Linked DNA regions of Homo sapiens: region 1 is linked to region 2. Evidence: fine-mapped expression QTL. A gene starts in region 2. The other region holds a variant in brackets. All regions are shown on one strand. Distances are from middle to middle. Region 1 overlaps GPD1L (glycerol-3-phosphate dehydrogenase 1 like). Region 2 holds the start of GPD1L (glycerol-3-phosphate dehydrogenase 1 like).

Region 1 (8,000 bases), 45 kb after region 2:
TGAAGTTAGGAGTTTGAGACCAGCCTTGTCAACATGACAAGCGAAACCTCATCTTTACTAAAAATACAAAAATTAGCCAGGTGTGGTGGTGCACGCCTATGGTCCCAGGTACTCGAGAGCCTGAGATGAGAGGATTGCTTCAGCGTGGGAGGTGGAGGCTGCAATGAGCAGTGATCGCACCATGGCACTCCAGCCTGGGTGACAGAGCAAGACCTTGTCTCTAAAAATCAAAAAGGAGACATGAGCACTATGTGCAGTGTGGGGTCCTGGATTAGGCAGGGAGGGTTGCTGTGGAAGACAATGCAGAGGTGATTGGTGAGGTTTGAATGTGGATTATATGTTAGATAATAATATTATGTAAACATTACATTTTCTGTATTTGATCATTGCAGTGTGGTTATCCAGACATCCTTTGTTGATGCATAGGGACTATTTTAAATTGCGGTAGGTTCAGGAATCGTGGCCCACTTGAATCTTCTGTGGAGGGAAAAGATAGGGCAGCTTCAGGCCTCAAAATCCTGTCATGGTGAACTACAGTGCCCTCTTGTGGTAAGGTCTCCTTTCGTTCTTGGGGCATACCACAGACTCTGAGGCTTTTAATCCAGTCATTCCACAAATATTTTTCAAACCCTCTTATGTATCAGGCATGGTGCCAAATGTCTAGAATACATAAGCTCCTTATGGAACTTGTAAGCACACAAACACATATGGAATCACAAACTAAAATAAGGGTTTTGAAGGAGTTTTATTACATAGGTTAATTGCCTCTAAAACTTGGTGTGACAGAGAAAGGGGATTTTCCTGTCTTTGGTTTACATTGAGTTTTGGGCAACCTTCCCACATGGCTGTCCGGCATTAGCTGTTCTGTACAGATGCCCTGAGTCCCTGCTTGCCATGTCACTGTTTATTACTGGGGTTTGTTGTTGTTGTTGTTGTTGTTTTTGAGATGGAGTCTCACGCTGTTGCCCAGGCTGGAGTGCAGTGGCGTGATCTCGGCTCACAGCAACCTCCGCCCCCTGGGCTCAAATGATTCTAATGCCTCAGCCTCCTGAGTAGCTGGGAACACACACACACACACACACACACACACACACCACCACGCCAGGCTAATTTTTGAATTTTTTGTAGAGATGGGATTTCGCCATGCTGACCAGGCTGGTCTCGAACTCCTGACCTCAAGTAATCCACTTACCTGAGCCTCCCAAAGTGCTGGGATTACAGGCATGAGCCACCGCGCTGGCTTATGACTGGTATTATATTAATAATAAAATTCGCGGGCCGGGTGCGGTGGCTCATGCCTTTAATCCCAGCACTTGGGAAGGCCAAGGCAGGTGGATTGCTGGAGGTCAGGAGTTCGAGACCAGCCTGGCCAACATGGCGAAACCCCATCTTTACTAAAAATACAAAACTTAGCCGAGTATGGTGGCGCATGCCTATAGTTGCAGCTACTCAGGAGGCTGAGGCGGGAGAATCGCTTGAGCTTGGGAGGTGGAGGTTGCAGTGAGCTGAGATAGTGCCACTGCACTCTAGCCTGGGCAACACAGCAACTCTGTCTCATAAATAAATAAATAAAGTTACTACCTATTATCCATGATTTAAGGTAATAAATTTTAAAAGGTACCTTTGAGAAAATATGAGATTGCTATAAATCAAGCCCACCTCTTGGATGGGCATTGCGTTATTTGCAGCCACAAAGGAACCCATAGACCCTACCTTGTATCTATGGCAAGCCAAGAGTGTGCCTTCCCCTGCCCATTCCTCAGTTTGTTCACCAGCAACCCAAGTTTCCAGCTGCAGATGGCTGGATTAAAGTGACTTGAGGGAGGGGCTGGTCTGCAATGTTCAGGAGCATGCTTCATGTTGGAGGCACTGAGCAGTGGGAGGAGACACGATGAGGCTGTAATATGATGTAGGGGCCAGGGGCTGGTTTACCCAACCCAGATGATGCAACAGTGTTGCACAGAGTCACCTAGACAGCCTGGTGGACTGTTTAAAAAGGAAGAGAACAGTTTGCACAAACTGACATAGTTCTAACATTTGGAAAAGGGGAACTCAGCTAAATGAAAGAACAGTAATGCTACAGAGTAGACTGTGTTTCTAAGTATTGGGTGTAGATATTGTGTTTTATTATGAAACTTTTCAGAAAAGTAGAGTAGTATCACGAACCTCACATGCCCGTCACCCATCTTTAGAAATGATTAACTCCTGGCCAGTCTCATTTCATCCACTCCCCACCCTCTCTCAACCCTCAGATGGCCTGGATTATTTTGACATTGTGTCACTTCTTGGTGTAGTTTTACTTGTTGACAATCATGCTTTTTTCTTTTTTTTTTTTTTTTTTTTTGAGACAGAGTCTCGCTCTGTTGCCCAGGATGGAGTGCAGTGGTGAGATCTCAGCTCACTACAGCCTCCACCTCCTGGGTTCAAGCGATGCTCCTGCCTCAACCTCCTGAGTAGCTGGGACCACAGGTACGTGCCACCACGCCCAGCTAATTTTTTGTATTTTTAGTAGAGATGGGGTTTCACCATGTTAGCCAGGATGGCTTCAATCTCTTGACCTCGTGATCTGCCCGCCTCAGCCTCCCAAAGTGCTGGGATTACAGGTGTGAGTCATCGTGTCTGGCCAAAAAAAACTTTAGATTCACATTCGGTCAGTTAAAAATGTATGTCAAATTGTAAATGATCACCTCGATTGGAAACGGGATATTTTTACTTTATTTCTGCTCCTATGTGTTTTCTAAATATCCTATCATGAACATGTTACTTTTATAGTAAGTAGAAACTTATTTTAAAGTGTATTAGGTGTGAAAATTAAGATTAGAGGCTGTTATTAATATCCTTGTTGTCTAACCTTTCAACAGGCAGCAAAGTAATGGAGAACGGCCTTCTCTTCAAAGAACTTCTGCAGACTCCAAATTTTCGAATTACCGTGGTTGATGATGCAGACACTGTTGAACTCTGTGGTGCGCTTAAGGTAAAGTCAGCCTCAGGGGAGGAGTTCATCAAGCAAGGCAAATGTTAGCATCATTGAGTCTAATCCTCAAGAATGGGCTCTGTGTTCTGTGCACCCACATCAGCGAAGAATAGTGAATTGAGAGTCTTGTTTATAACTTCCTGTTTTGCTGCAGCCTTTCCCGGGTGGTTCAGTTCCTCTCTTACTCGTGGCTTGCTTTAACTTGTAAATATGGGGGAATTGTGATGTTTTGGTCTTTGGGAAGTTGGCAGCATTGATATTTGGAAAGCATGGGAGTTCCTTGATGACAGGGTTTCACCCAGGAGCAAATGATTCTATTCATTCATGTTTTTCTCCCACACTTCATCCTGAGCAGGAAAAGGAACTTGTTTCCTCTGAATTATGCTACTCTACTAGTTTGGCTGGTTGTTCTTATTAAGGGAAAAAATAATCTGCTGCTGGTAGAGGTTTTTCTAAGAATAGTTTTGTCTTTGCCCTCAAGAGAGAGAAGATGTGATTAAAGAAATGCACTCCACTGGCCAGTGGCTTGCTGGATTTTTGTAAGTGGAACTGTACAGTATGCACTCTTTTGTGTCCGGCTTCTTTGATTGGAGGTGTATTTTTGTTTGTTTTAATGTAAATTTTAAGAGGTACTTCATACAGAAAAGTACAAAAATCATAAGTATGTAGTTTATGTTATCTTTTTTTCCCCTCTTTTGAGGTAAAGGGAGGTCTCCACACCTGGGCTCCTGACTTGTTGGCTGCTGTCTTTTAAAGCCTTAGGCACTGTCCCTCTCTCTGCCGTGACTTGGGGGAACAACCAACAGGGAACAGCAGCAGCTACCTGCTCATTCCCCCTCACTATCTAAGTTGCCTTTATTTCACTATCATCTACAAAAAAGAGTGGGGGGAATAGGGGAAATAAAAAGTTCTCAATGTGAATGCCCCTTTTGAGCCACTTCTGAGTCATCTCTTTTGCAGCAAAAAGCCACCCTTCAGAAATTT[G/C]AGCATCTAGGGAAGAGGTTAGGCAATCCACCAGTCACCTGTCTTTATTGGATGGGAGTTGCAAAGGTGGAAAGAATGCCTGTCTATGCTTTCTCATAAATTGTATATGTTTTTTTCTAGTCAGAAGTTAAAACCACTCTCTAGAATTAACATTGTGTATATATGTGTGGTCATGATATATAATGAGCATTTAAAAAAATTAAAGCCAATTAAAGGCCTGGGCTCCTAGGGAGCACACATGCATATTTCTAAGCGCCTGTGTGGGGCATTCTTTGCATTAGCATTACATTACATGCAGGCCCAGTTATACATGTAAGACGCTGACTTTGGCTGCTTTGTTTATTTTTGTTGGTTGAGATTTTTATGTGTTTTTAATAGTCCTTCATTAAACTAATTACCACTCAACAGCAGGGGGCATCGTGAATGCCTAATTGCTCAGTGCTGGCCTGAGCTGCTCCAAAGCTGTTTTCAAGTGACTGGATGTTTTTGGTGGTCATGGAGAAGCTGTGAAACCCTGCCCAGAGCAAAGAGTGCTGGGTGAGAAGAAGGAGTCTAGATTGAGGTGAGGGCTTTGGAAAAGCTTCTGCTAATGGGAACCCATGCTGGTCTTGTGTCTGAACTTAGAATGGCTTTCATTTTTGCTGGCAGGAAGACTGTAAGTGGATGTGCCAGCTACCTTGATGGAAAGGGATTCATGGGGGATGCAGGGAGGTGGGGGTTGAAGGCCCTTAATCATCCTCCCTGCAACTTCCCACACAATCTTTTAAAACGAGATCAGTTACCATCATTCCTGGGGGTTTGCATCAGAGTTAAAATTTTTGAAAACTGAGAAACAGGCACTTGTAGCAATTATTAACTCCAACCATTGTCTTGCACAGATAAGGAAATCGAGATCCAAAGAGCAAATGACTTTAGGGTAGCAAACACTGGCACACTCGGAGCGTGAACACGGGTTTTAAGACTCTCAGCCCAGTTTCTTTGGTTACTGTGTACCACTTGACTTTTCTGGTTAGTAATCAGGCAGCATGAATGAAACGAAGCCCTCTCTCATCAGAGCCTGCCAGAGCAAGGACACATGGCCGTATGTTGCTTTCATCACATAAATAACAGTGATGGGTTTTTCCCCCCGACTATAACACAGTCATATTCCTTGTTTTCACACAACAGAAAGGTGTAAAGAAGGAAGTAAAAATCAAATCACTGACAATCCTACATCCTGAAATAACCTCAGTTAATGTTTGTTGTATACCCTTCCAATGTTTTTAGTGTGTACCTATGTGTATGGGTCCTTTTTAAAACAAAAACTAGATATTAGTGTTCAAGTAGTTTGATTTTGTGTGTGTGTGTTTTGTTTGTTTTTGAGACAAGGTCTCGCTGTGCTGCCCAGACTGAGTGCAGTGGCACAATCATGGCTCATTGCAACCTCAGCCTCCCAAGCTCAAGCTGTCCTCCCACCTCTGCCTCCTGAGTAGCTGGGACTACAGGCACATGCTGCCATGCCCGACTAATTTTGTTTATTTTTTGTAGAGATGGGGCCTCGCTGTGTTGTTCAGGCTGGTCTTGAACTTGTGAACTCAAGCAGTCTTCCCACCTCAGACTCCCAAAGTGCTGGGATTACAGGCATGACCCACCACATCCAGCCATTGATGTGTTTTACTTTTTTACGTTAACAATCTTTAGTAATATTCTCCATACTAGCCAATTTACAAAATGTACATTATCTTTTTTGTACTCAAAAATGTGGAGCATTTGACTTACTAGGAAAAATGTGAAAACAACTCTCTACAAGGATAAAATAGAAAATTCAAAGGATTTATGCATAATCATTTTGTACCAGTGCCTCTTACTACCTTCGGAATGTCCTTCATGAACTCTTAGCTGTATTCATCTCTTAGTAAGGATATATCCTTTTTTAAAAATCAACTTTAAGTGTAATTCATGTAATTAGGCCAGGCATGGTGGCTCACACCTGTAATCCCAGCACTTGTGGAGGCCAAGGCGGGTGGATCACGTGAGTATGGGAGTCTTAGACCAGTCTGGCCAATAGGGCGAAACCGCATCTCTACTAAAAAATACAAAAATTAGCTGGGCGTGGTGGTGTGTGCCTGTAATCCCAGCTACTCGGGAGGCTGAGGCACGAGAATCACTTGAATCTGGGAGGCAGAGGCTGCAGTGAGCCAAGATCGTGCCACTGCACTCCAGCCTGGGCGACAGAGTGAGACTCCGTCTCAAAAAAAAAAAAAAATGTAATTCATGTAATCAAACTGCATCTATTTAGAGTTTATAATACCATGGGTTTTGAGAGTTGTGTGCATGCACTTGCGAAAACCACTACCAAAGTACACAACATTTCCATTATCCCCAAACAACTCCACATGTCCCTTTGAGGTTCCTCATCACCCCAGCCTCCAGTTGGGCAGTCAGCTGATCTGCTTTTATATGCCATCGTTTGCATTTTCTAGGATTTTTATAAGTGGAACTGTACAGTATGCACTCTTTTGTGTCTGGCTTCTTTGATTGGAGGTGTATTTTTTGTTTGTTTTAATATAAATTTTAAGAGGTACTTCATATAGAAAAGTACAAAAATCATAAGTATATTGTTTAATCTATGTTATCTTTTTTTTCCCCTCTGAGAGAGGTCTTGTGTTCCTTGGCTCAAGCTGTTTTCCTGCCTCAGCCTCCCAAGTAGCTGGGATTATAGGTATGCACCACAGCGCCTGATTTATGTTATTGTTTTCTGTGTTTTTAAATAGTCTAGTGGTCTTTTTTTTCTTAACAACTTTTTTTTTTTTTTGAGACAGAGTCTTGCCCAGGCTGGAGTGCAGTGGTGTGATCTCAGCTTACTGCAACCTCTGCCTTCCAGGTTCAAGGAATTCTCATGCCTCAGCCTCCCAAGTAGCTGGGATTACAGGTGCATTCCACCACACCCAGTTAATTTTTGTATTTTTAGTAGAGATAGGGTTTTGCCATGTTGGCCAGGCTGTAGCTGGCCAACAGATGTATTACATCTGTAATGTACGTTTTGTAATTGGCTACTATGGAGAATATTACTAAAGATGATTAATGTTAAAAAAGTGAAACTCATCAATGGCTGGACGTCGTGGGTCATCCTTGTAATCCCAGCACTTTGGGAGGCCGAGGTGGGAAGACTGCTTGAGTCCACGAGTTCAAGACCAGCCTGGACAACACAGTGAGACCCCCCGCATCTCTACAAAAAATAAACAAAATTAGTCAGACGTGGTGGCTTGTGCCTGTAGTCCCAGCTACTCGAACTCCTGGCCTCAAGTGATCCGCCTGCCTCAGCTTCCCAAAGTGCTGGGGTTACATGCGTGAGCCATCACACCCAGCCTATTTTTCACACCTATTATGCATGAATTCATAGAGAATAAGTCCCAGCAGCTCAGGCTCCTTCCCACTGGTTCCCACAAAGTGCGCTTCTCTGGGTGGAGCAGGCTGGTACTTCAGTCTAATCCAGGTACCTTTCTCTTTGGCTTCCTTCTTTTTCTGATCATTTTCCTTCATGTGTTTCAGGAAGCTATCTCAGCTCTTAGCTTAATATGCTCCATACACCCATTAATTCTTGGCAAGAATCTTGCCCTTAACTTGTTTACCACAATGCCAGCAGCATGCTGGGTAACATTGTAGACTCTTCCAGTTTAGCCATGGTGACACTTGTGGGGCATTCCTTTTTGAACAGTGACCATTCCCCTGATGTCTACAATATCATCTTTTTTTAAAAAAAGGTTTTTTAGCTTATGTATTTATTTTTTATTTTTTTTGAGACAGGGTCTCACTCTGTTGCCCAGGCTGGAGTGCAGTGGCACAATCTCAGCTCAGTGCAACCTCTGCCTCCTGGGCTCAAGTGATCCTCCCGCCTCAGCCTTCTGAGTAACTGGGACTATAGGTGCTTGCCACCATGCCTGCTAATTTTTGTATTTTTTGTGGAGACAGAGTTTCACCATGTTGCCCAGTCTGATCTCAAACTCCTGGACTCAAGTGATCCATCAGCCTTGGCCTCCCAACGTGCTAGGATTATAGACCT
Region 2 (14,925 bases):
TCTGCCTTGTTTGTTTACTTGTTTCTTTGAATCGGTATAGGCTCATGAACTTTTATTCAAAGAGTTTAAATTCATAACTATTATTATTAATTTTAATGCATGCATTGACTCAGATTTGCCTAGTGGGAAATCCTTTTTTTTTTTTTTTTTAATACTATGGACCACAAGACCCTGCTATTTAATCTGGGCTGACTGTGTCTCTGACTGAAATGCTCCTCTCTCTCATACTTACTTATTAATTATAGTTTTCTGTTCCTCAAACATGCAGGCTCTGCACTGCCTCGGGGCCTTTACACTAGCAGTCCCCCTCCCTGGAGTTGTCTTCTTCCCACCTTCCCATGGCAGGCTCCTTCCATGCGTTCAGATGTCTCCTTCTCAGAGAATTTTTCTGGGACCATCTTGTCTAATATAAGACTAATCCCTTGGCTGGGCGCATGGCTCACGCCTGTAATCCCAACACTTTGGGAGGCCGAGGTAGGCGGATCATAAGGTCAGGAGTTCGAGACCAGCCTGGCCAACATGGTGAAATGCCATCTCGACTAAAAATACAAAAATTAGCCTGGCATGGTGGCGGGTGCCTGTAATCCCAGCTACTCGGGAGGCTGAAGCAGGAGAATCACTTGAAACCAGAAGGCAGAGGTTGCAGTGAGCCAAGATCACGCCACTGCACTCCAGCCTGGACAACAAGAGCAAAACTCTGTCTCAATTAAAAAAAAAAAAAGACTAATTTATCTCTCACTCTTACTCCCAATCTCATTCTCAGTCTCTCTTTTGTATTTCATTTTATTTACCTTTTGAGACAGAGTCTTGCTCTGTCTGGAGTGCAGTGGCACAATCATAGCTCACTGCAACCTCAAACTGTTGGGTTCAAGGGATCCCCCTGCCTCAGCCTCCCGAGTAGCTGGAATCACAACTACTCAAGAGATCCTCCTACTGGGATTACAGGTATGAACCACTGCACCTGGCCTCTCCTGTATTTTAGATATCTCCCTCTCTGTTGGCTCCTCCCCAGGACTAGTTCAACATATTCTAGCCTCCTCCACATGATGTAAAACAAACAAGCACAAAAAAACTAAAATTATTTTGCTACTCTTTAGTTTTGCCTCTCCTTTTCCTCGTGTCCCTAGCTCTCATCTTCTCACAGCCAAACTTCTAGAAAACACTGTCTACTGCTGCAGTTTGAATGTCTGTGTCTTCTCCAAAATTCATGTTGAAACTTAATCCCCAATTTGATAGTATTAAGGGGTGGGGCCTTTAGGAGGTGATTAAGTCATGAGGGCTCTAATTGGGAATTATGACTTTATTTGTTTATTTGAGACAGGCTTGCTCTATTGCCCGGGCTGGAGTGCAGTGACACAATCACTGAAGCCTTAACCTCTTGGCCTCAAGGGAGCCTCCCACCTCAGCCTCCCAAGTAGCTGGGGATATAGGTGTGCACCGCCATGCCCAGCTATTTTAAAAATTTTTTTGTAGAGACAAGGTCTTGCCAAGTGGTCCAGGCTGGTTTCAAACTCCTGGGCTCAAGCAATCCTCCCATGATAGCCTCCCAAAGTGCTGGGATTATAGTCATGAACCACAGCACCTGGCCAGATTATGACTTCATAAAAGCGATACAGGGAATTAGGCCCTTTTTTTTTTCCCTCTGCTCTTCCATCATGTGAGGACAAGCAAGAAGGCCTTTACCAGACACTGAATGCCAGCACCTTGACCTGGGACTTTCCAGGTTCCAGAACTAAGACATAAATTTCTGGGCTGAGCTCGGTGGCTCATGCCTGTAATCCCAGCAGTTTGGGAGGCCAAGGCAGGCAGATCACTTAAGGCCAAGAGTTTGAGACCAGCCTGGCCAACATGGTGAAACCCTCTCTCTACTAAAAATACAAAAATAGCCAGGCATAATGGTACAAGCCTGCAATCCCAGCTACTCAGGAGGCTGAAACACGAGAACCACTTGAACCTGAGAGATGGAGGTTGCAGTGAGCCAAGATCCTGCCATTGCACTCCAGCCTGGGCGACAAAGGGAGACCCTGTCTCAAAAAAAAGCAAACAAACAAAAAAATTCTGTTCTTTATAAATTGCCTGGTTTCAGGTATTTTGTTACAGCAGCACAAACAGACTAAGATATCTGTACTTTCTCAAGCCTCACTTCCCTACCTTCCATTTATTTATACCTCCACCCACCACACAATGAGTTTATGCTCTGCCCCAAAACTGAAAGTGACTTACTCTGACCAGATACAGAAAAAAACAGGCCTGTGGCTAGCCCATATATTGCTTTCATATGGACTGGAAAAACATTTCCCTTTTTCAAGACGCTTGCTTCCATCTATCAGAAAATAGTCATCTTAGGTATACCAATCTGCAATGTCTGCAATGTGCATGGTGCCTGCTGGTGTTGTGCAGTGTGCTACCTGCACAACCATATGAGGACCCTACCAACATCCTCCAAGCCCGAAAGATACATTACACGGCCGGGCTCAGTGGCTCACGCTTGTAATCCCAGCACTTTGGGAGGCCGAGGCGGGCAGATCACGAGGTCAGGAGCCAGACCATAGTGAAACCCCGTCTACTGAAAATACAAAAAATTAGCTGGACGTGGTGGCGGGTGCCTGTAGTCCCAGCTACTTGGGAGGCTGAGGTAGGAGAATGGCGTGAACCCGGGAGGCGGAGCTTGCAGTGAGCAGAGATCGCGCCAATGCACTCCAGCCTGGGTGACAGAGCGAGACTCCGTCTCAAAAAAAAAAAAGAAAGAAAGAAAGATGCATTATACTTTAGTCCTATCCATTTTTTTTTTTTTATGACAGTCTTGCTGTGTTGCCCAGGCTGGTCTCAAACTCCTGGGATCAAGCGATCTGCCCATCTCAGCCTCCCCAAGTGCTGGGGTTACAAGCATAGAATAGCCACTGCACCCAGCCCTAGTTTTTATTTGACCACTTTCAACTCCCCTGTGACCATCCTTCCTTCTTGAAATGTTGCCTTCCTTTGGCAACTGTGATACCACACAATGTTCTCATTGTTTCTTTCTCATCCTCTCATGCTTCTCTTCTTTAATATTAAGTCCATTCCAGAGTCTATCCTGGTTTGTCTTCCCATCTCTCTGAGTGATCCCAATCACTTTCATTCAACATTTATTGAGTGCCCACTCTGTGCTAGGCATTGTTCTAGGCACTGACCACTTGCAACTTCTAAGTACATGCTGGTAAATGACAAATGTGTCTATCTCAGGCTCACATATCCAACTGCCTCCCTGAAATCTGAACTTCGATATCAAACGACCTTCCCCCAAACTTAACTTGTCTAGAACTGAGTTCATCATCCTTCTCTCTAGATCGGTTTCTCTTCCTGGGTTCCCCATTTTAGCAAATGATATTCATTCAGTTGCCCAAGACTGATAGCTGGAGTCATCCTAGACCCTTTTCTCTCTCCCACCTGAGAAAGTAGTAAGTCTCTTTTTTCTGCTTCCTAGATATGTCTGACTTTCAATCACCTGTCTCCATCACTGTTACCACCACACTGGTCTCCATCTCACTCTAAGCCATTATGATGGCTCTTATAGAATACAGCAGCAGGCTCCTTCCTGGCCTCAGCCTTCGGGACTTTTCCCTGTGAATTCATCCAGAGCATGCTTCCTATGACACAAGACTGATGATGTTAAGCTCCTGGTGAAACCCTATAATGGTTTTTTTGGCCTTCAGGATTTCAGTTCTAATTCTTCAATATGCTTTATAAGGCCAACCATAATCAGGTACCTCCTCTACCTCTCTGCTTTTATTTATTTCCATTCCCCCTTTCCCCTCATATTCTGTCACTCATTCATTCTTCCCTCCATCCATACTAAACTCCTCTTAGCTTCTGAATATCCCATTCTCTCTCTAGACTCTGAACTTTGGCCTGTGCTGTTCCCTCTGCATGGAGCAGCTCATTAGCTGCTCTCCCACCCCTTTACTTTGCCGATGCTACCTTCTCTTCAGGTTTCAGCAGAGATCTTACTTTATCTAGGAAGCCTTCCCTAAACTCCCAAATCTGGGACAAGGGTCTTTTTCTGAGCTGCCATAGTAAGCTGGTACCATTTATCACACTAGGGTGTTTCCCTGTTCATTGGTCTACATCTTCCTTTAAATATAAGCATCTAAGAGGTCAGGAACCTTGCCTCTCTTCTTTGTTTGTTTTTGAGACAGACTCTCACTCTGTTGTCCAGGCTGGAGTGCAATGGCACGATCTCAGCTGACTGCAACCTCCACCTCCTGGGGTCAAGTGATTCTCCTGCCTCAGCCTCCTGAATAGGTGGGACTACAGGCATGCACCACCACACCTGGCTAATTTTTTTTTTTTTTTTTTTTTAGAGATGGGGTCTTGCCCAGGCTGGTCTCGAACTCCTGAGCTCAAGTGATCCGCCCACCTCAGCCTCCCAAAGTACTGGGATTACAGGTGTGAGCCACCTCATCCAGCTTTTGTTTAATATTTAATTCTTGGGACCCAGCACAGTGACCAGCACATAGTAGGTGCTCAGTAAGTACATGTAGAATAAATGAACAGTTGATAAGTGCAGGATATGAATCCAAAAATTCTGGTCCTGACTCACCACTGGACCCTTGGAAAGTGTTTATTAGTGTTGCTGTACCTTAGTGTCCTCACTTGTAATACGAATATATAATATAGAGCATGGCAATGGCAATTTTAAAACATAATCCCCAAATTCTTTGACACTTCTTTTAACGAGAGGTAGAGCCTATGTCCCTTCCTTTAGAATTTGGGCTCTGTAATTTCTTGACCAAAAGATCACAACAAAAGTGATGTCATGGCCATTTCTGGACTCAAGTCTTAAGAAATCGGCAATTTCCATTTTGTTTTTCTTGGGATGCTTCCTTGCGGAACGCAGGCACTATGCCATGGAGAAGCAGCTCCAGAGAGGCCCACGTAGAGGACTCCAGCCTCCAGCCCTCAGCTTCTGCCAAGCTCCCAGGCAGCAACACCCACAATTTGGCAGCCATTTTGGCCTCCATCTTGCTCCATCCAAGCAAATCATCTTGGAAGTGGACCTTCCAGCCCCATTTGAACATCCACCCCCATGTAAGATTCCAGAGATAAAGAAATGTTGTTTAAGATCTACATTTTGGTATGGTTTGTTATGCAACAAGCAATAATCAGGACAGATTTTGATACCTGGAAGTGGAGTATTGATAATACCATAACACGCAGCACTGGCTTTGGGACTGGGCAGCAGATACAAGCCAGAAACGCCTCTGGGAGCATGTTAGTAATGGTGTAGGAGGCTGGGAGTGAGGACTTAAAAGTGAGGGAAATGTTATCTGGAGAGAGGAAAGGGGACTCCAGTTACATAGAAAAGTTTGGCAACACTGTTGCCGTGGCCTTCTGTAATGTGGAAAATAAAAAGTGTACTTCATGAACTCAGTGACCTTTCTAAGAAGATTTCTGGGCTGAGTTTCCAAAGTGCTGCCTGATTTTTACTTGGCTAGCTAGTGGCACCTCTTTCTACCACAATGCATGAACCAGTCATGTTGTTAAAGACATTGTCTCCATGCATGAAATTATAGACACCCTATGCCAAGCTTGTCCAACCCACAGCCTATGGACCGCATGCGGCCCAACACAAATTCGTAAACTTTCTTAAAGCATTATGAGATTCTTTTTGCAAGTTTTTGTTTGTTTGTTTTGTTTTTTAGTTTATCAGCTATCATTAGTGTTTTATGTGTGGCCCAAGACAGTTCTTCCAGTGTGGCCCAGGGAAGCCAAAAGATTGGACACCCCTGCCCTAAGCCTTCTCCAGGTCCCCGAAGAGTTGGCACTGTCACAATGACAATGGCTAACCTTTTGTCTTCCAGGCTACTCAACCCTTTTGGAGAAGGTGGCAACATCGTTGGCACTGTCATCTTAGACAAAAGAGAGTGGGACTGGCAGAAGATCAGCTATCTCAAAATTGGAAAGCAGGTCACTAGTTCCTATCCACTGTGATTCGTCTGGCATTCTTCAGTCCTCTGTACTGTGGCTTCTCCTTTCCCCCATGATTTTCATTAAACATCTACACAAAAATTATTTAATATGTGCAAAATGTATAAATAACTAATCCTGCCCTTCACCATATCCATGATCCTGCATTTTGTGTGTTTCCTTTCTTTGTTTTCCTCTATGGTTTCACTACATGTGAATCCCTAGTGATAGATTTATTTTTGCTTGTTTCTTAACTAACAGAAATGGGATCACACTGTATGTATTCTCCCGAAACTTGCTTTATTCTCTCAACATTAAGTTCATAAATTTCACCTATTTGTTTTTTGTCTTAATCTTTGTAACCAGTCTGTAAAACCAAATGACTATCCTCTCTGTTCTGGCACAATGTGCTGTGCATATCAGGTGACCAGTAAACACTGTAGGATGATGCTGGGCAGGATATGTCCACAGTGTTGGGAGAAAAGCTGAGTGTTGGGAGAGAACCTGAGGCAGGGCTTGGAACATGTCAGGGGTCCAGGGTCTAAAACCCCTCGTGGCCTTTGGAATGGGTCTAGACTTGCGGGCTCCTTGCTTTTAGCACTCCCATTATCTCAAGTAGCCATATGTTTCAAAGAAAATGCTAAACTCTCACAGCTATAGCTCATTCGCTTGATACGCCACTTCCTTCCAACCCCCACATCCTCACCACCTGTTTCTTTGTTTTATCACCAATAAATAGCGTGGGCTCCCAGAGCTCAGGGCCTTTGCAGCCTCCATACTAGCGTTGGCCCCCTGGTCCCACTTTCTCTCTTGTCTTTTCTCATTCCTTTGACTCTGCTGGACTTCGTAGCACCCACAGCTTAGTGTTGGGTCTGATCACCCCAACACACAGAATAGGTGGGTAGCTCACGTTCATGCAAATGTAGTTGTAATATTCAGGAATAAGAGTTTCCAGAGAAGGTACAAAACTTTTACGTGACCCCCAAAAAATTTAAAAAAAAGAAAAAAAAACAAAAAACTTTTAGGTGGCTAGGCGTGGTGGCTCTTGCCTATAATCCCAGCACTTTGAGAGGCCAAGGCAGGAAGATTGCCTGAGACCTGGAGTTCAAGATCAGCCTGAGCAACGTAGCAAGACCCTGTTTCTACCAAAAAAAAACCTTTTTTAAAATAAACTAAAAACTTTTAGGCAACTGCTAAAAATGAATCATTTGGTGTAAAGGGACCTTTACAAAATCATTTAAGAGCAGGGACCTCTCTTAAAGGCCTGTGGATCTCCCAAGCATGGAAATAACAGAAAATCTTGAGTTCCTTCAAGGGAAATTCCAGGCACCTTCCCAGCCTTTAGAAGTAAATGAGCAAATTAATAAGCAAGAAGGTAATAGTAGCTTAAAACAATAGCCAAGGCCGGGCACAGTGGCTCACGCCTGTAATCCCAGCACTCTGGGAGGCTGAGGCAGGCAGATCACTTGAGCTCAGGAGTTCGAGACCAGCCTGGGCAACATGGCAAAATCCCGTCTCTACAAAAAATACAAAAATTAGCATTGTGACATGTACCTGTAGTCCCAACTACTTGAGAGGCTGAGGGAGAGGATCACTTGAGCTGGGAGGCAGAGGTTGCAGTGAGCTGAGATTGTGCCACTGCACTCCAGCCTGGATGACAGAGCAAGACTCTACCTCAAAATAAAAAAAAAAAATCAAAAATAAAAAGCCAAGGAAGTTAGAGTCAGAAGATGGTCCCTATAGAAACTAATGATGCATCTTAACTATGTCCCTGAGTTGTTTTTTAAAAACCCAGACCCTCACGAAATGTATCCACTGGCATATAGACCTCAGATAAGGAGGAACTGAGGATTGAACTCTGACCACTGTTCTTCAACGTCTTTCAGAGGGGCCTGAAAGTCATGTCTGCAAATCAGAACTAACATTCTTTTTTTTTCTTTTATTTTTTCTTTTTGGAGACAGTGTATCACTCTGTTGCCCAGGCTGGAGTGCAGTGGCACAATCATGGCTCACTGCAACCTCCACCTTCCAGGCCCAAGCAATCCTCCCACCTCAGTCTCCCAAGTAGCTAGAACCACAGGTCTGTGCCAGCATGGTCAGCTAATTTTTAAATTATTTTTGTAGAGATGGGGTCTCCCTATACTGCCCAGGCTGAGAACTAACGTTCTTTTCTACTGACCCCAAATTTTTAGACAAAGCTTTGTCTAAAGTTCCTTAACCAATTGCAAAAAAGAAAATCTCTGATTCACCTATGACCTGTGGGTCCCCCTCCCCCACTTTGAGATGTCCTGCTTTTTTAGGTCAAACCAATGTGTAGCTCCATGTATTGATTTATGACTTTGCCTGTAACCTCTGCCCCACGCACCTTTATTTTACTTTTTATTTTTGAGACAGGGTCTTGCTCTTTCATTCAGGCTGGAGTGCAGTGGCACAATTACAGTTCACTGCAACCTCGACCTCCTAGGCTCAAGTAATCCCCTCATCTCAGCCTATTCCGACTAGCTGGGACACCCAGCTAATTTTAATTTTTTGTAGAGACACGGTATGTGTTATCCAGCCTGGTCTTGAACTCCTGAGCTCAAGCAATCTTCCCACCCCGGCCTCCCAAAGTGTTGAGATTACAGGTGTGAGCCACCGCGCCTGGCCCCCAGCTGCCTTTAAAAACCCTTACTTGCCAGCCATCAAGGAGGAGCTACCTGATTCTCCTTGCTTGGTACCCTACAGATAAACACCCTTCTTTCTCCCTCTGCAAACCTTGGTGTGGGTATTTGGCCTTACTGTGTCAGGTGAAGGGACCCTAGTTCAGTTAGATAACATAAATATTTGCAGTGTATGTGTACTACCCAAGGACATGACTTCATTATTCAATTTGACAAATGCGTTCTGTTACACAAATACAGAAAGGATTAATAAAGCTTTACTAGTCCATCTTTCCCATTATCCCTGCATGTATCCTTGCATTAGTGCAAATAATTGAGAACAAACCATTGGTGAGGGGATGGAAAGACTGCTCTGACTCACCAGCTCCCTTTAAGTATTTCCTTAAGTAAATATCATAAGTAACACAAATAAATATTTCATACAATGTAGAGAAAAAAGCAAAAATAACAGTTCTCTGAGCATCAAACTAATAGGCTTAGTATTACTATCATTTTTTTGAAACGGAGTGTCGCTCTTGTCGCCCAGGCAAGATCTCGGCTCACTGCAACCTCCGCCTCCCAGGTTCAAGAGATTCTCCTGTCTCAGCCTCCTGAGTAGCTGGGATTACAGGCATCTGCCACCATGCCTGGCTAATTTTTTGTATTTTCAGTAGAGACGGGGTTTTGCCAAGTTGGGCAGACTAGTCTCCATCTCCTGACCTCAGGTGAACTGCCTGCCTCGACCTCCTGAAGTGCTGGGGTTATAGGCGTGAGCCACGGCACCCGGCCTAGGCTTAGTTTTTTGTAGGTACTAGAGTATTTGTTTCTTTAGCCAGAATCCACTGATATTTTAGTCTTCTGGTTCTCAATCTTGGCTTGCTTTTGCAACTACCTCTTGAACTTTAAAAAATTCTGCTCCAGCCTGGGCAACAGAAGGAGACTGTCTCAAAAAATATATGTCAATAAGTAAATATCCTGATGCCTGGATCCCACCATGGGACATTCTGATGTAACTGGCCTGCAATGGTGTCTGGGCATGGGGATTTTTAAAAGCCCCAGTGACTAATATGCAGCAGAGTTTGAGAACCACTGGTTTAAAGGACTTTGTCCTACTCTGACAGCGTCTAGCACAGTGCCTGGCAGAGACTGATGCTCAGAATGAACAAACTAAGATTCTATTTGTCAAGGAGGAGAGCATTGTGTTACTCACAAATGCAAACAAACCACAAGCAAGGGATAAGTCAGGCCCTGGGCAAAGACAATGGTAAAGCAATTCCTGCCAAGTAAGCGTGTGAGGGTGACACCCACTGAATGCAAGCTGTTGTTACCTTTTTCCCTTTATTTTTATGTATTTATTTTTTGTTGAGACAGGGTCTCACTGTCCTTCAGTCTGGAGTGCAGTGGCCCTATCCTGGCTCACTGAAGCCTCGACCTCCTGGGCACATGCAATTCTCCCGCCTCAGCCTCCTGAGTAGCTAGGACTATAGGTGCGTGCCACCATGCTTGGCTAATTTTTTAAATTTTTGTACAGAGGGGTGGGGGGTCCTAATTATGTTGCTCAGGCTGGTCTCGAACTCCTGGGCTCAAGTGATCTTCCTGACTCGGCCTCCAAAAGTGCTGGGATTACAGGTGTGAGCCACTGCACCAGGTCAAGTTTCTATCTTGACTCTAACTAGAAAAGGTGTCATCCTTGAAATGCAGGTACTGTTCAGCCAAATTCCAAAGTCCTCTGAAGATCCAAGTTCTCTAAGAAGTTCAGAGGTGCCAGGCTGTGTCTTGTTTGTGCAAATGAAACAGAGGATGACAAGGTCGGGTGGGCATTTCGAGCTCTGCCCCAAGTCTGGTCGGCTTGAGAGTCAACCTAGGAGCCTCTCTCGGCTCCAAATGGCAATGTGGCAGCCCTTCCCGAGTAGGGAAAAAGGAGCGTGTAGGGGGCACCACGGCAAGCTGGTTGGGTCTGCTCCACCCATGAGGATGGAGTGCAGCCTCCACCGGGAACCAGGGGCGCGAGTCGCTGCTCAGTGGCCTGGGCCTGCATGTGGCGCGGCGGGAGCTGCTGCCTAGGGCCGCGCAGCGACGGGGGGTGAGGACTACATGTCCCGACGTGCCTCGGGCAGGGCGGGGCGGTGCCGGAGCCGGGCCTGGAGGCCGGCCGGGGCCAGGCGTGCGCAGTGGTTCTTGGGAGTGGCGAAGCGGGTCCTGCCCCGCTGTCAGCTGCGGCCCCCGGCGCCGGGCGGGGGTGGCCGCGACCATTGGCGGAGAGGCGAAAGGGGCGGGGCCGCCGCCAGCCGCTGCGGGCAAGGCTGAACAGGCGGAGGTGGGCAGCCGGCCAGGGAAGCACGGTCCAGGCGGCTACATTCGGCCCGGCCATGGCAGCGGCGCCCCTGAAAGTGTGCATCGTGGGCTCGGGGAACTGGTGAGCGGCGGCGGGCTGGAGGCCGGGGCTCCGCTTCCAGGAAGCGCCTCTCCCGGGCGGTGAGGGCTGCGCGCCCCATGCTGCGGCGTGGGCACCGGGCACTGCGCGCAGGGAGGCGGGGTGGGCGACCTCGTTGCTGGGCTGGGCACCGTGCGCCCGAGGAGGCCGCACCGGGGCACTCGCTCGGGAGGCGCTGGGCTCGCGTGCGTGCGGGGGACAGCGCGGAGAGAGGGCACCCCGAGCACGCGGGCACCTGTCTGCGCCCCCGTTACTGAGCGCACAGAAGCCACCTGCTTGCCACGCCTGGGTGTTTTGCACAATATCCTAAGGGCGTATTCCGTTCTCCACGGCGGATCTCCTGGGTCAAGGACTTGGTGGAGGCTCGAGCATTCTTACTGCAGTTTCGGTGTTGAGGAAACCGAGGCGGAGAGGGCTAAAGGGCTCTTGCTGCCCAGGTCACGGGCGGGGCATGCTCTGCCCTTCAAGGTGCCCGTCTCGCCCCCGCTTCTGATAGGTCCACTATCTTAGGCGCGTCGTATCAGGAAGAAAATCCAAGTTTCAACAGGCCGCTCTCCCTGAGGCGTTGAGAATTCTCCCTTGCCGAGATGTTTGCGAAGCTTTGCGTCTCTTTGGGGCCTTATTTGACTTTAACATTTTATAGAGCACATTAGAAATGTCAGTTCTTCTAGTACCCTTAATCAAACGTACACTGTGGGATTCTCTGGTGTGTTTGGGTGAATGTAGAGGTGGGGGTGTGAAGGGGGAAGGAAGCAAAGTGTAGCATCTGGTGTTTCCAAGCCTTTTTTCATTGCTGTACACTCTGCCACATTGGAGGGACTGGTGTACAATAGTTAAGAGTGATGATGTCCTTTCAGTGCTTCTGTTTACCGGTTTTTCTGTGGCGTGACAGGCATCAGAAGTGCTGCAGCAGCTGGTCCTAGGTAGTTGGTCTTAGTTTTACTCTTTCAAGACTTGGCCCAGAAAGTACTTATTGAAGGAAACCTTACCTGGTTCTTCACTTTTCCATCCCAGCAAGGCCAGTGGCCTCTCTCTGTGTCCCTATTGCTGGCCTGCATCACTGCATTATAAGGAGTTATTTGATTATCTGTCTCCCAACTTTTGAGAATGGCATCTACCCTAGTGCCTGGCATATGCTAAGTCAATACTAAGACTCTGTTGCAGTGGTGCGATCTTGGCTCACTGCAACCTCCACCTCCTGGATTCAAGCGATTCTTGTGCCTCATCCACTTGAGTAGCTGGGATTACAGGTGTGAGCCACCGCTCCCTGCCTAAAAACTAATTTTTAAAACCATAATGATATTTGATTGAATAATACATTCACATTGTTTAACAACCAGGGCTGGGCGCAGTAGCTTATGCCTGTAATCCCAGCACTTTGGGAGGCTGAGGTGGGCCCAGGAGTTTGAGACTAGCCTGGGCAACACGGCAAAACCCCGCCTCTACAAAAAATAAAATATTAGTCGGGCATGGTGGCTCACGCTTGTAATCCCAGCACTTTGGGAGGCTGAGGCAGGGGGATCACGAGGTCAGGAGATTGAGACCACGGTGAAACCCCGTCTCTACTGAAAATACAAAAAATTAGCCAGGTGTGGTGGCAGGCGCCTGTAGTCCCGGCTACTTGGGATGCTAAGGCAGCAGAATCGCCTGAGCCTGGGAGGCAGAGGTTGCAGTGAGCCAAAATCAGATTGCACCATCGTACTCTAGTCTGTGTGAAGGGAGTGAAACCCTGTCTCAAAAGAACAAAACAAAACAAAAAATAAAAAACAAAAACCAAAGAGTACCAAAAACAGTGAAACATCACCCATCCACATTTATCCCCCCTGAGTACCTCCTGGAGGAAAACCAGTGTTATGAATTACTTCTGTCCTTTCTGGAGGAATTCCATGCAAGTGAATGCTTACATATAGTCCTTTCGCCCTCCACGCTGCAAATACTAGGGTATTGCATACTTTTCTGTGAGCTGCATTTTTCAACCAACAACAGAATGTTCTACACAATATTTAATAGAGTTGGTAGCTTGCTGCTGCAAAGCTTAATTTGGACTTTCAGCTTGGCTTTGCCAGTTGTTTTTTTTTATTACTATTTTTTTAGACGGAGTCTCCCTCTGTCGCCCAGGCTGGAGTGCAGTGGCGCGATCTCTGCTCACTGCAAGCTCCGCTTCCTGGGTTCATGCCATTCTCCTGCCTCAGCCTCCTGAGTAGCTGGGACTACAGGCATCCGCCACCATGCCTGGCTAATTTTTTGTATTCTTAGTAGAGACGGGGTTTCACCATGTTAGCCAGGATGGTCTCAATCTCCTGACCTCATGATCCGCCTGCCTCTTCCTCCCAAAGTGCTGGGATTACAGGCATGAACCACCGTACCCGGCCGGCTTTGCCAGTTTTAATGTCAAGCTCACTTGAGTGCAGTGTCAGCTCCCCTGTTGGCCATGCCACTTGAAAGGCACCCATTTAGCACATGTTTTTTTAACATTAGTTTTTTAGTCTGTACAATTCCACAGATGACAGCCCCTTTTCCTAATTTGCAAGATGCAGGACAAGTAGCACAGCTCTGCCATGCTGGAACTGGGCCTGGAGCAAGAGTAGTGAAGTGAGCCTCCTGCCCCCTCTGCTGGGATTTGGCTGCCTGCCCGTGGCTTCTTCATTCTGGTGTACTTGACTGTTTCCTTGGCCCACTCCAGCCCAGGGAAATGGAGTAGAACTTGGCCAGTGATACTGAAGCAGAGCAATTGAGAAATGTGCTGATGGTTTGGGCTGGCTGCCTGGCTTCATTAATTATGGGATTAGACGGGAACAATTCTTGGCTTCTGTGCCACTGCCTTGGGTACAGAGTTACTCCAGTCCTAGAGAGAGGATCACAACCTCCCCAGAGGGATTCAGGAACTCAGAAACTGAAAACAACATGGAGAAGCCCCAGAGGAGTGTTCAGCTCTAGTCAGTAGACATTTGAGTGTTGCCCGGTGAAGAGACTGTGGTCTGACCAGGGATGCAGACACAGCTGGACACAGTCCCGGTCCTTAAACAACTTACCTTCAGGTCTGAGATCAGTGAGGACATGGAAGATAAGACCGAAGGAATTGCCAAGTGGAATGGAGTAACTGCTCTGTTACACTTTAAATCGTGTTTCTTTTTTTGTTTGTTTGTTTTTGTTTTTCTTGAGACGGAGTCTCGCTCTGTCGCCCAGGCTAGAGTGCAGTGGCGCAATCTCAGCTCACCGCAAGCTTCGCCTCGCGGGTTCACGCCATTCTCCTGCCTCAGCCTCCCAGGTAGCTGGGACTACAGGCACCCGCCACCACGCCCAGCTAATTTTTTGTGTTTTTTAGTAGAGACGAGGTTTCACTGTGTTAGCTAGGATGGTCTCAATCTCCTGACGTCGTGATCTGCCTGCCTCGGCCTCCCAAAGTGCTGGGATTACAGGCGTAAGCCACTGCGCCCGGCCTAAATCGTGTTTCTTAAATTGTGGTCCCAAGACCACTTGTGTCAGAATTACCACTGAAACTAGACTTGCTTAATCATATCCCCTGAGAATGAGATTTTTTTTTCTGAAGGAACTTTAGCCTTTTGCCAATTTTAATACAGATCACCAAGAGATAGACCTACCCTTCCAGATCTGGTTCTTACCTCAGGAATGTCAAGTTGCTTAAGCAATGTTTATACTTGGAACTTTAGGGCAGCTTAGCCTGTTTGTGTAAATAAAGGTGTTTGTCACATTTGAGAACTCTCACATGGAGTGCCTCTCCCAAGTCAATTGTCATCAGTTGCAATACAGTTATCAGAATATTGAATCTAGCTGGCTTGCCAGGGAGCTTCAGCCAGGAAGGTCCTGGGCAGGAAAGTAGACGTGTTGTATAACATGCCCTTGTCCTGTCCTTTGGTGAAGCTCATTTTCTCTACATAGATCAGA

Evidence for each region. PIP is the estimated chance that this variant, and not a neighbour inherited with it, causes the effect.
Region 1: its variant is fine-mapped to the expression of GPD1L in monocytes (TOPMed, PIP 0.97).

Annotation. Positions count from the first base shown.
Region 1 is chr3:32,143,761-32,151,760 of GRCh38, forward strand. It overlaps GPD1L (glycerol-3-phosphate dehydrogenase 1 like), which reads left to right. Exons shown (of 8, transcript NM_015141.4): 5 at 2,862-2,974. It also overlaps the pseudogene RPL21P137. Among named protein-coding and RNA genes, the nearest start is that of GPD1L, 41 kb to the left of the region's middle. RefSeq lists an enhancer at 4,023-4,636. The variant G/C (reference allele first, on the strand shown) is at 3,959.
Region 2 is chr3:32,095,758-32,110,682 of GRCh38, forward strand. It overlaps GPD1L (glycerol-3-phosphate dehydrogenase 1 like), which reads left to right and starts at 10,863. Exons shown (of 8, transcript NM_015141.4): 1 at 10,863-11,001. The coding sequence starts at 10,955. RefSeq lists silencers at 2,527-2,626, 10,596-11,005, 11,126-11,265.